Linked DNA regions of Homo sapiens: region 2 is linked to region 1. Evidence: fine-mapped expression QTL. Tissue or cell type: whole blood. Region 1 holds a variant in brackets; the other region holds the start of a gene. All regions are shown on one strand. Distances are between the middles of the regions.

Region 1 (5,000 bases):
AAAAATTGCCTAAAAGATATAGAGTCCAGTTTGTCCCTGGATATTTCATATTTTATCCATAGACAAAACCAGACTTTCAGAGAGCTGGACAGTTAGGCCACATTGTTTGGGTCACTGTGAAAAGCAGACATAAAGACATTGGAATGAAGAGAGTCAAAGTGATCTTGCTTGCCTAAGGTGACTATGAATTCAGAGGGGAGTCCACATGGCAGCAATAGGATAGTGGGGAGAAGAAGTGGTTGTCATGGACTTTGAGAAGAATTGAGGAAGGGGATGTGGATTTGGGGAAAGTAGGTGACCCTTAGGATGATGGTGGCTAGTTCTTTCCCCCCATAGAGAGAAGTGAAAAGGAAGTGGGAGCTCAGAGCAAGGAAGTTTGGGATGCGTAAGTTTCCCCTATGTAAAGATGGAATATGAAGATCTAATAAACTTTTTCTCACCCTCCTTCCTGTTGCATTTGGGAATATGAAAAATACAAAGTATCAGTGAGATATGATGTAGGGAATAATAAAAACCTTTGGAAAAGGACCATTTAGAAATTGAAATAAGGCCATTTTTTTCTATTCTCTTACTTCATTTTTGGTTTACTATGGGAAAAGCAGAACTCAGGAATGTCTACAGTCAGGGATAGAATTAGATTCCACCAGTGAAGTTTTGCACTTCATATTTTGCCAGTGATTACCACCTTGTGTTATGCTTTTCAGTGCCTTTCTGGAACTGAGTTTTTAAAAGCCAGTGAGTTATTGTCAGCCAGACTTGTCTTTTTTTTTTCCTCCCAGTTAGGGGGTGCACTTTTCACAAAAATACAGTGATTAACACTAATGGAGCAGGGTCCTGTGCCTGGTTAATTCTCTTTAGACTTTGATTCTAGTCCCCAGTTATACACATGGAGGCAGCAGCATCAGTGGGTTAGAACTGAAAGGTCATGTGTAAAACTCTCCAGAGAAAAGGGAGAATGTGACACTAAATCACCCCTTTGTGCTATGACAGGAGGGAGATAATTTCTTCCCCAGAGGGATGAAGCAGAATTTCATCCCTTTAGGATGTTTTGTCACTAGTCTGAGTTTAATGGAACACTGTGCTTCAGAAATCACTCCTTCTAGAAAGAGCCTTTTAAAGCTTTATTGACTCATGGAAAATTTTGTGTCCTTAAATTATAGCTAATGCTCTGGTTTTGTCCCATTGGGATATATATGGGCATGGAAGCTTACACCTAGTTCAGGTCCACATCCTTGTGTCTGATTGGGAGTAACTGCCCCATGAGCACTGGGTATAGCTATAGTAACTAGGAAATGTGTTTTTTTAAGGATTAGAATCACTATGGTAAATGAGACCAATAGAACATTCAAAGACTATAACACAAAAATCATATAGGTATACTATATGTGTAAGGATGTCAGAATATCTGTCCTGCCTGTGGTCCTTGTTGTAATGTGTCTTTCCCAGAATACTGTTTTGTACATGTTGCTCCAAAGGGTGGATTTTAGTGATGAACTCTTGATGAATATTTAGATGGTGGCATCGTTATGAAAAGTGTTACTGTTTTCTACAAAATGAATCACTTTTGGTTATGCTTACATTTCTAGAGTGTATCACCTCTTGATAAATTAAGCACAAAGGCATTTATATATAAAATATATATAAACACATATATAAAATATATATTATGTATGTATATATTATGTAAATAAATATACATATATAACCATGCAGGGTGGAGGAAGGGAAATGTATACTATATATGTTTCTCATTGTCTTCTGTTCAGGACTCATCTGGAATTTTATTCTGGCTCAATTTTTTTTCTTTTTTTAAGGTTATAGATAGAAAGACCTTGTTCCTTTATTTAAAGTGTTCAATGGGTGGATAATAGTAATAGCATCTACTAGTTAATGAGTACTCATTTTGTGCTAGGCAACATTCTATTAACAACCTATGGGTTTCAGTGCATCCTACAATAGCAAATGGCAGAGTTGGACTTAAACTGAAATCTGGCTGATGGCAAGGTCCACTTAACCATTCAGTTGACTTCTGTTAAAAAAAAGGGAAGCATGCAAGTCGTAAAAGGGAAAAAAAGCAGTTAAATTTCATCAAGAAGATGCCATTTATTTATAAAATGAGAGGAAGAGATGTTTCCAATTTCATAGAGAAAATAAGAGCATAATTATATGCCATTTTTACATAGAATTATGAAAGTTGCTGGTTATATAGTCATAATTTGCATTTCCACCCATTCTCTCTGTAAGCAGCTATTGCCATTTTTTTCTCAT[G/A]CACAAAATCCTGTATCCTGAGAATGCATCTTCCTTAGGAGCAGAAAAGAGGCAGCTTTGGAGCAGATTCGCCACCTTTCTGGGTTTTGCTTTCCAGGACAGTACCGGCTCCGCCTCCTCGCTTGCTTTGACTTCTTGCACATTCTTACCTCACAGCTGGTCAGACAAAAGCTTTTTGCTGAGGATTTTCATTTCTCAAAGACTACAAACTCGATGTGCCAAAATATGACTTCGTTTTCCTATAAGTTAAGTGAATTCCTCTCTTGAGCCTCTATATTCTCTGTTGATGTAAATTTGACCTTAATTTGGCGTGTTTCCTTCTCGTTCTCCTACTGCTGGGGACACGTCTTCATTCAAAGGCAAAGTGGGTGGGGACCAAGGTAAATGACGTAACATCACAGTTTGGTGGAGTGAGTTGTGTCCTGGTCTTCATCCATCCTGTCTGGCATTCCTTAGATACCTATTGTCATAGTCATAGCTAGTCTTGGTTACTGATATCTTTGCACACTGACATCCTCTGATTCTTCTTTGGTCTAAATGAAATAGAAATTACAAGATGTTTAATGCAGCGTGGAATGGGAAGGAAGAAATGCATGAAGTAGAGGGTATGGTAATCTCAACAGATTCTGGCAAATTTCTCCTATGACTACAACTTATATTTGGGGTGAAATTTTAAAAAGCCTCTGTAGGAAAATAGAATATTAGTGCTATTTTCACAAGGAAAAGAGTAGGCATTCTATTCAAATAATTTATGAAGGAATTGATCTAAGCAAAAAAAAAAAAAAAGTTAAGGAGGTGCCATTTAATTCATCTCCTGAGACTAACTCAATTGCTTCAGAAATCTTTACTTTGAGAAATTTAGCGAGACAGCGAATTGTTTGGGGGAAGGAATAAAAAGTGCTGCCCTAGGAGGAATGAAAAGTGCGCTGTCATCTCATTCCTGTTAGTTTTTTTTCAGCAATGCTTTGGTATTAAATGTATAGCCAAAAGTTGAAAGGAACCATTAATTCATAGTTGGAACACATCTCAAAACAAACACAGAAAGGTCAAAACACAGCTCTTTTGGTAAGTATTCTTTTAGGAACACAAGTTAGCATTTGTAGCCCATCTACTTTTTTCATACTGATGTATTACTCAGGAAATCTTTTCAAAAAAGTGATTTCTATGTATGCTGTTAATTGTAATTTTTACTAGAGAAATTGGAGCACAAAACATCACAACCTTCCTGTAATTAACCTGTGGCAGATGGAAGTTCAAGAATTACATCTTCTGCCAATTAAGGATATTTTTCTTTAATTACAAGTACTTGGGCATTTCAGTAAATGTAATGGTTTATATTTTATGCATAAGGGTTTTGCTTCTGTGGAAAAATATTTTTTTCCCCATAGAAATGAAGTTGAGCAAAATGGAACAAAGAAGACAGATGTGTAAAATTGCCATGATTTAATATTTTTATACCACCATCTGAGCATAAAATTAGACTATACTACAGGGAGAGCATAGAACAATAGCATCATTGGTGTTTTTGATGGACTTGAGCCTGTGGGATGAGAGGGCTTGTTGAGGTGGGACACAGATTGAGAAAGGTGAAGTGGCTACTGGTACGCATGGGGACCTTTCATTTTCCATGAGATGGGGAGGAAAACTCCCTGGAAAGAAGAGAGACCAAACAACCATTTGTGAGATGGGGGTGAAACCCAAACTGTGATAGTTCTTTTCAATTCAAAATAGTGGTAGGGGATATCAAAGGGGAGAAGAATCAGAGAGACCATGAGCATGAGATTTTTGGAAGGGATGTGGAGTAAGGAGTTGCAATTCAAACTAGAAGAAGCTATAAAAGGAACTAATGGTAGCAGTAAATGATATTTTCTAGATTATAAGGAGATGTGAGAAATTGCTTGTTTTGAAATGTTTTGAATTCTGTTCCTTCCACTGCTGACTTGGTTTGGTCTCCCATCTGTAAAATATATAATCAGGTAGCAATGATGAGCCCTAACATTTGTTATGTGCCATGTGCCAGGTAACATACACACATGACATGGCACCTGTCTCAAGAAGCTTGCAGTATAATATGGGATACATATAAGACATTAAATTACAATTTGGTGCAAAAACCAAATGATTTACAAGTTATGGCAGTGGCTTATAGAGGAATGATTCTCACTGCCTGTGGCAAGAGGTGAAATCTGAGTAGGGGGTTCTGGGGAGTTTCTGCAGAGGAAGTGTTCTAGAAGATACAGAAGAGATGGTTAGAGAAGGAAGGAACAGGAATTTTAATTTTCTTTTCCTCCTCCTCTTCCTCCTTGTCTTCTTCCTCCTCTTCCTCCTTCTTCATCTTCTTTTTTTTTTTAGAGGTGGAGTCTCACTATATTTCTCAGGCTGGAGTCAAACTTCTGGGCTCAAGTGATCCTCCCACTTCAGCCTCAAGCCAGGTAGGACTACAGGCATGCACCACTGTTCCCAGTTAGGAACAGGAATTTTTAAATGGAGGAGAAAGCATGTGGAAATTCACCAAATCAAGAAATTTCAAAGAAAACAGTTATCTTCAAATACGTAATATAATGTAGATTTTTAAATTAATTGTTATTGTTTTAAATCAAATTCTTGTGCTAGAGAACTGTATCATTTTTCAGGTTATTGTGAGGGGGAGGCATGGGGCCATGACTCTTGGAATAGTCATTATTTTTTTAATTGACTTTCAAAAGTTATTTGAAGATTTTGGCATTGACCAA
Region 2 (5,000 bases), 110 kb before region 1:
TAGCATCAGCTCATTTAGTCAGTTAACATTTATTTCCTAAAATCAAACACTCTTGATTGGTCAGCCTGGGAGAAGAGGGCTAAGATTAAGGTTAGTGATGGTTCCCTTAAAACCTGTCGAGTGTCTGCATTGTTAGACACACTGAAATCTAAGAATCCCATCTCTCTGGGGCTGTTCACTTTACTAATAATTATTTATAAAAGGGAAGCTGAGACAATAAATTGCCAATAACCATGTAACATAATAACCACAATGAAAAGACATTAAAGCTACCTTTTCTGTAGCCTGATTTTACCTAGATGGTGGGTTTTGGTAACAAGCCATCACTAGAGGTCAGTTTTTGATTACATGTCTTCTCAGGTTCAGCCTATGTTTTGATTTTTGGCTACTGGGCACCTCTCTGGTTTTTAGGCTTTAAAGCAGATCCAAATGTTATATTATAGTCTTGTAAATGTTTCATCCTTTTTGCTTCTGATAGATTAGAACTCTAATTATTAAAAACTATTTTTAAGCATTTGTGACTACAAAAACTCCTAAACTTCAAATGGTTTAAATTTTGATGTTTATTTTAATTTTAAAATATTTTAAAAATTATTCAATAATAGAACAATCTGTAATGAAAACTTACACATATGTGAGAGGTACTATTTTAAGATGAGAGTTTGCAGGTCAAATTAGTCAGGGAGGAAAGAGTAGAAGTCAGAGTGGGAAAGGCCCTTAAAACTTAATAGGGAATATCAAATCTCTACAAAAATTTTATTCAAGACAGTGTCTAAGACTTAGAAGCAACTAACTTAAAAGCAAACTTTTGGAACTTAATCCTATTTTCATTGGGGACTCCGTTTATGAATAATATGCTGTAATTATACGTAGAAGCTTAAGGACTGAAACAGAGCATTCCAAATGACAAATGTTTTCTCCTGAAGAAATGGCACCCAAATTATGTTGTACAAGTAAGCGGAATAAAATAATCATATGCTTGTTATTAAAATTATCATATGCCTAACATTCATGATTTTCAAAAGTGAAAAACAGTATGTTATCTTTGAGTTTGTTTTCATGTGATATAAATTTATAAGCAAGTCAAAATTAAATAATGTACTGAGCATTAATTTAAGCCAGGATTTTTCAGCCTCAGCACTATTGACATTTGGGGCTGGATAATGCTTCGTCGTGAGGGGCTGTGTAGTGTGAGGTGTTCAGTAATATCCCTGGCCCCAACCCATTAGATAGGTCCCCTCTCCAATTGTGACAACCAAAATGTCTCTAGACATTGCCAAATATCCCTCGGAACTAAATTGTCCCCAGTTGGGAACCACGAATTATTAATCCCTAAAAGACAAAGCAGCAACTCCTGACCCCTACAAAAAGTTTTAAATCAATAACTTAGTTTAAAATCCTTACTAAGTGGGATCATTACTAATCTCACTTCATTGTACCTTCAGTATCTGGAAACCGTCCCTATGGTCACACTTACCACGGCTCATTATTATTTTAAAACATGGGGCTGTGTCATTTCCTGTCTGTGAGTTTGGACTGCAGTGGGAATCCATTAGTTGAATGACCTTCTGTGTAGGTTAATCACAAGACAAGTTCTCAAACTAAGGGTTTCCCTGCGGCTCATTTCTTTTTAAAGTTATGGAATACCTGTTCTGCTTATACCTTTTAGATTCATAATTATTTTTCTTGTATCAAAATTTCAATTAATAGAAATAAATGACGTTACTGACACTTCATGATGATTAAGTTTTGGGCAAGTGAACCATTTTACACTCTATTTTTTATTCCTCCCACTTTTAGTCAGAATACACCTGCAGAATAAGTAACAGAACTGTGTGAAAAGAACGACTAGGTCATTACGGTTAATAGTTTTAGAAAAACAGCCGAGGCCTGGTCTGGAAAGCTCACAACCTCCACCCAGATGCTTTCCAGCCTCGGGGATATTCGTACTAGCAGTGACACTAGCCAGCTTCCTCTAGGCTGGCTCTGATGTTGGAAGACAAGCACGCAGATGTGTGTTACTTTTCAAGCCTGGACATCGTTTCTGAGGAATTTAACTCCACCTCTCCTGCCAGAATGGAAAATCAACGCCCCCCATTCCCGCCCTTCACCAACCCCTCTCCGCCTGCCCCTTTCCCTTGGGTCCTCTCTGTTACAGAAGTTCTGATTTTTCCTAGCGAGCTGGAGGAAAGGCAGGTACCCGGAGTGGAGTTATATTACCTGTTTCTTTGTTCTGATGGGACCCCAGAGAGGACATCACGCTTTGTAACTGGTTCTTCAAGGGGAGAAGCAAATGTGTCCCTGAAAACTTCAGCTGCCGCGTTTGGCACCAGGTTTGATTGACAAGGACTGGCGGAGGGAAAGCGCGGAGGCTGGGCTGGGGGCCGCAGGCCGAGGCAGAGACAAAGAGGTTTCGCCTGTCCCCGAGAGTGGAAGGGCCCCTGGGGGTAACTAGCCTTTGAGCTCAAAGGGGCATTTCGTGAGGTCGCCTTTTGGTTCGGAGAGCGCGCGGCGATCGGGTGGAGGGGGCCTGGCGGGAAGAAAGCTGGGGCGGGGAAGGGGCGCGGGCCGAGGTGGGAGCGGAGCTGCAGTCACGTGGCCGCCCGCCGCCGCGGAGTTGGGGCTGTTCTTCCGGGTTGGAGGCGCAGCGCCGCGGGGCCCAAGCCCGGGTCTGCCAGCGCGACGTCCTCTCGCGGCCCTCAGGGCACAGCCCAAGGCTGTCAGCCTCCCGGCCCAGGTGAGCGCGACGGCACTGGCGGGTGCGGGCAGCCGGGGCGCGCGCCTAGGGCGCAGCTGGGAAAGGGGCTCGGGCCTTTCCTGAAGACCACGGCCCTCGCCGGGAGAGAGACCTGTCAAAGAGCAAAGCGGGGCGGGGTCGGCGGTGTCCCGGGCGCAGGGTGCATTGGGGTGTCCGCAGGCCGCAGGCTTAGGTGGGGAAGAAGCACCGTGCCTCTTGGTGTCCCTTTCTCGTCTCCTGCTGGGGCGATGTCGAAGGGAGTGGGCTGGTGGATTTGGGAACTGGGTCCCCGAAGAGGGCAGGGAATGAGGCGGCAGCTGTGCAGGTGCAGATATTTGCAGCTTTGGGGGACAGCGAGAGTCGTACGGGGTCATTTCGGCCCTCAAGATCGGGGGTGGTGGAGAGGGAGGTCATAGAGGACTTTCGATGGGCGGTTCATCCAGAGAGGTGGCAGCTGGATGCCCTTGAGGTATGCTTGACCCTTGAGGGAGTTCGGAGAGGGTGTCCGGCTGGGGACATAGGAGATTGCGAGCACAAATTGTGAGTGTGAGTTGGGGCGGTCTGGCGGTGGTGGGTACAAGTTTCTGGGGCCTAGGCTGGTGAGGAGGAAGAGACAGCGGAGAGGGCGACCTGGGCAGAGCTAGTTCAAACTCAACAGCCGGAATGACTATTTGCAGCCGTGGCCAATCGGCTTCCTAGGGAGGTTATAAATAGCGGTCTCGTGCAGATGCCAGCGGGTGGCAGTTAGTTGCCGAGCAAGGGACGGCACCGGTGGCAGTAGCCGTGACACCAGTGGCTTTGGGTGAGGTCACGGCGCCTGCCAGCCGAAGCTGGCTCAGTAGGGTATTGTGTCCTTGCTGGTATGTCTCGCTTTTAAAAGCGTGACTTGTTTATGGTTGCCGGTGTCCTTTATTCACCCTGTGGCGCCGGCCAGTCCTTAGGTGGTCTGTTTGTCAGGAGTCTTGTAGGACAGACTTATTCGGAGAAGCGCGTGGGGCTTAGGTGCCTACCTACTCTTCTTATTTAAAGTGTGCCCCTTTTCTTCATTGCACCCCTTTTATTTGTAAACCTTGACTTTTTATTAACAGACAGTTTAGGATTGCCTTCTTTCCAGCAGGTGCGCTTAGGCTGCTTACCTTGGTGATAGAATCAGTTTTCCACAAGGCTACACAAACATTTCCTTTTCAAAGGAAATTTTCCGAAAATCCTTGGAAAATGTGCTCAATAGGTACTTAGGCTTAAGGTCACCTAGCCCTATTCATTCAGTCAAAAATACTGACTTCCTCTGTGTTGTGCAAAGCACTGGGGGAGAGTAATACCAAAGTGAATATAACAGCTGATAAGGATATTCTCAGTCCTGGCAACAACCCTGAGAGGTAGGTGCTGTTATTTTATTTTTTCAAGTCTCGCTCTGTTGTCCAAGCTGGAGTACAGTGGCACAATCACGGCTTACTGCAGCCTGGAACTCCTGGGCTCAAGTGATTCTCCCACCTCAGACTCCCAAGTAGCTGGGACTTCAGGCTTGCACCACCATGCCCTGCTAATTAATTTTTTTTTTTTAGCAATGGGGGTCTCACTGTGTTGGCCAGGCTAGTCTTGAATTCTTGGCCTCAAGCAGTCCTCCCCACTAGCCTCCCAAAGAGATGGCATTATAGGCGTGAGCCACCACCCTGGGTGGGTGCTATTATTCCCCATTTTAAAGATGAGGAAATTAAGTACAGGGAAGTTAAGTGACTTCCCAAGGTCACACAGCCAATAAGTTGCAGAGTGGGGCTTCCAATCCGCAGATCCAGAGCTGACTCTCTTAAATATCTGTGGTATCCTCCCTCTTTAGGTTGGGTGCTTTCCCTCAAGGATTTTAATATCTAATAGGGGAAATAACCCATATAAGTTACATTAAACATACATATGAAAGCAATGCTTAAAAAGTTGTGCTTTTGGGCCGGGCGCGGTGGCTCACGCCTGTAATCCCAGCACTTTGGGAGGCCGAGGCGGGTGGATCATGAGGTCAGGAGATCGAGACCATCCTGGCTAACAAGGTGAAACCCCGTCTCTACTAAAAATACAAAAAATTAGCCGGGCGCGGTGGCGGGCGCCTGTAGTCCCAGCTACTCGGGAGGCTGAGGCAGGAGAATGGCGTGAACCCGGGAAGCGGAGCTTGCAGTGAGCCGAGATTGCGCCACTGCAGTCCGCAGTCCGGCCTGGGCGACAGAGCGAGACTCCGTCTCAAAAAAAAAAAAAAAAAAAAAAAAAAAAAGTTGTG

The links. PIP is the estimated chance that this variant, and not a neighbour inherited with it, causes the effect.
Region 2: NNT starts here. The variant in region 1 is fine-mapped to the expression of NNT in whole blood (INTERVAL, PIP above 0.99).

Annotation. Positions count from the first base shown.
Region 1 is chr5:43,709,008-43,714,007 of GRCh38, forward strand. No RefSeq gene overlaps it. Among named protein-coding and RNA genes, the nearest start is that of NNT-AS1, 110 kb to the left of the region's middle. The variant G/A (reference allele first, on the strand shown) is at 2,269.
Region 2 is chr5:43,600,558-43,605,557 of GRCh38, forward strand. It overlaps NNT (nicotinamide nucleotide transhydrogenase), which reads left to right and starts at 2,623. Exons shown (of 22, transcript NM_182977.3): 1 at 2,623-2,737. NNT-AS1 (NNT antisense RNA 1) reads right to left here and starts at 2,673. Exons shown (of 3, transcript NR_073113.1): 1 at 2,221-2,673. RefSeq lists an enhancer at 647-816, a cis regulatory region at 732 and silencers at 1,971-2,190, 2,454-2,543, 2,664-2,883.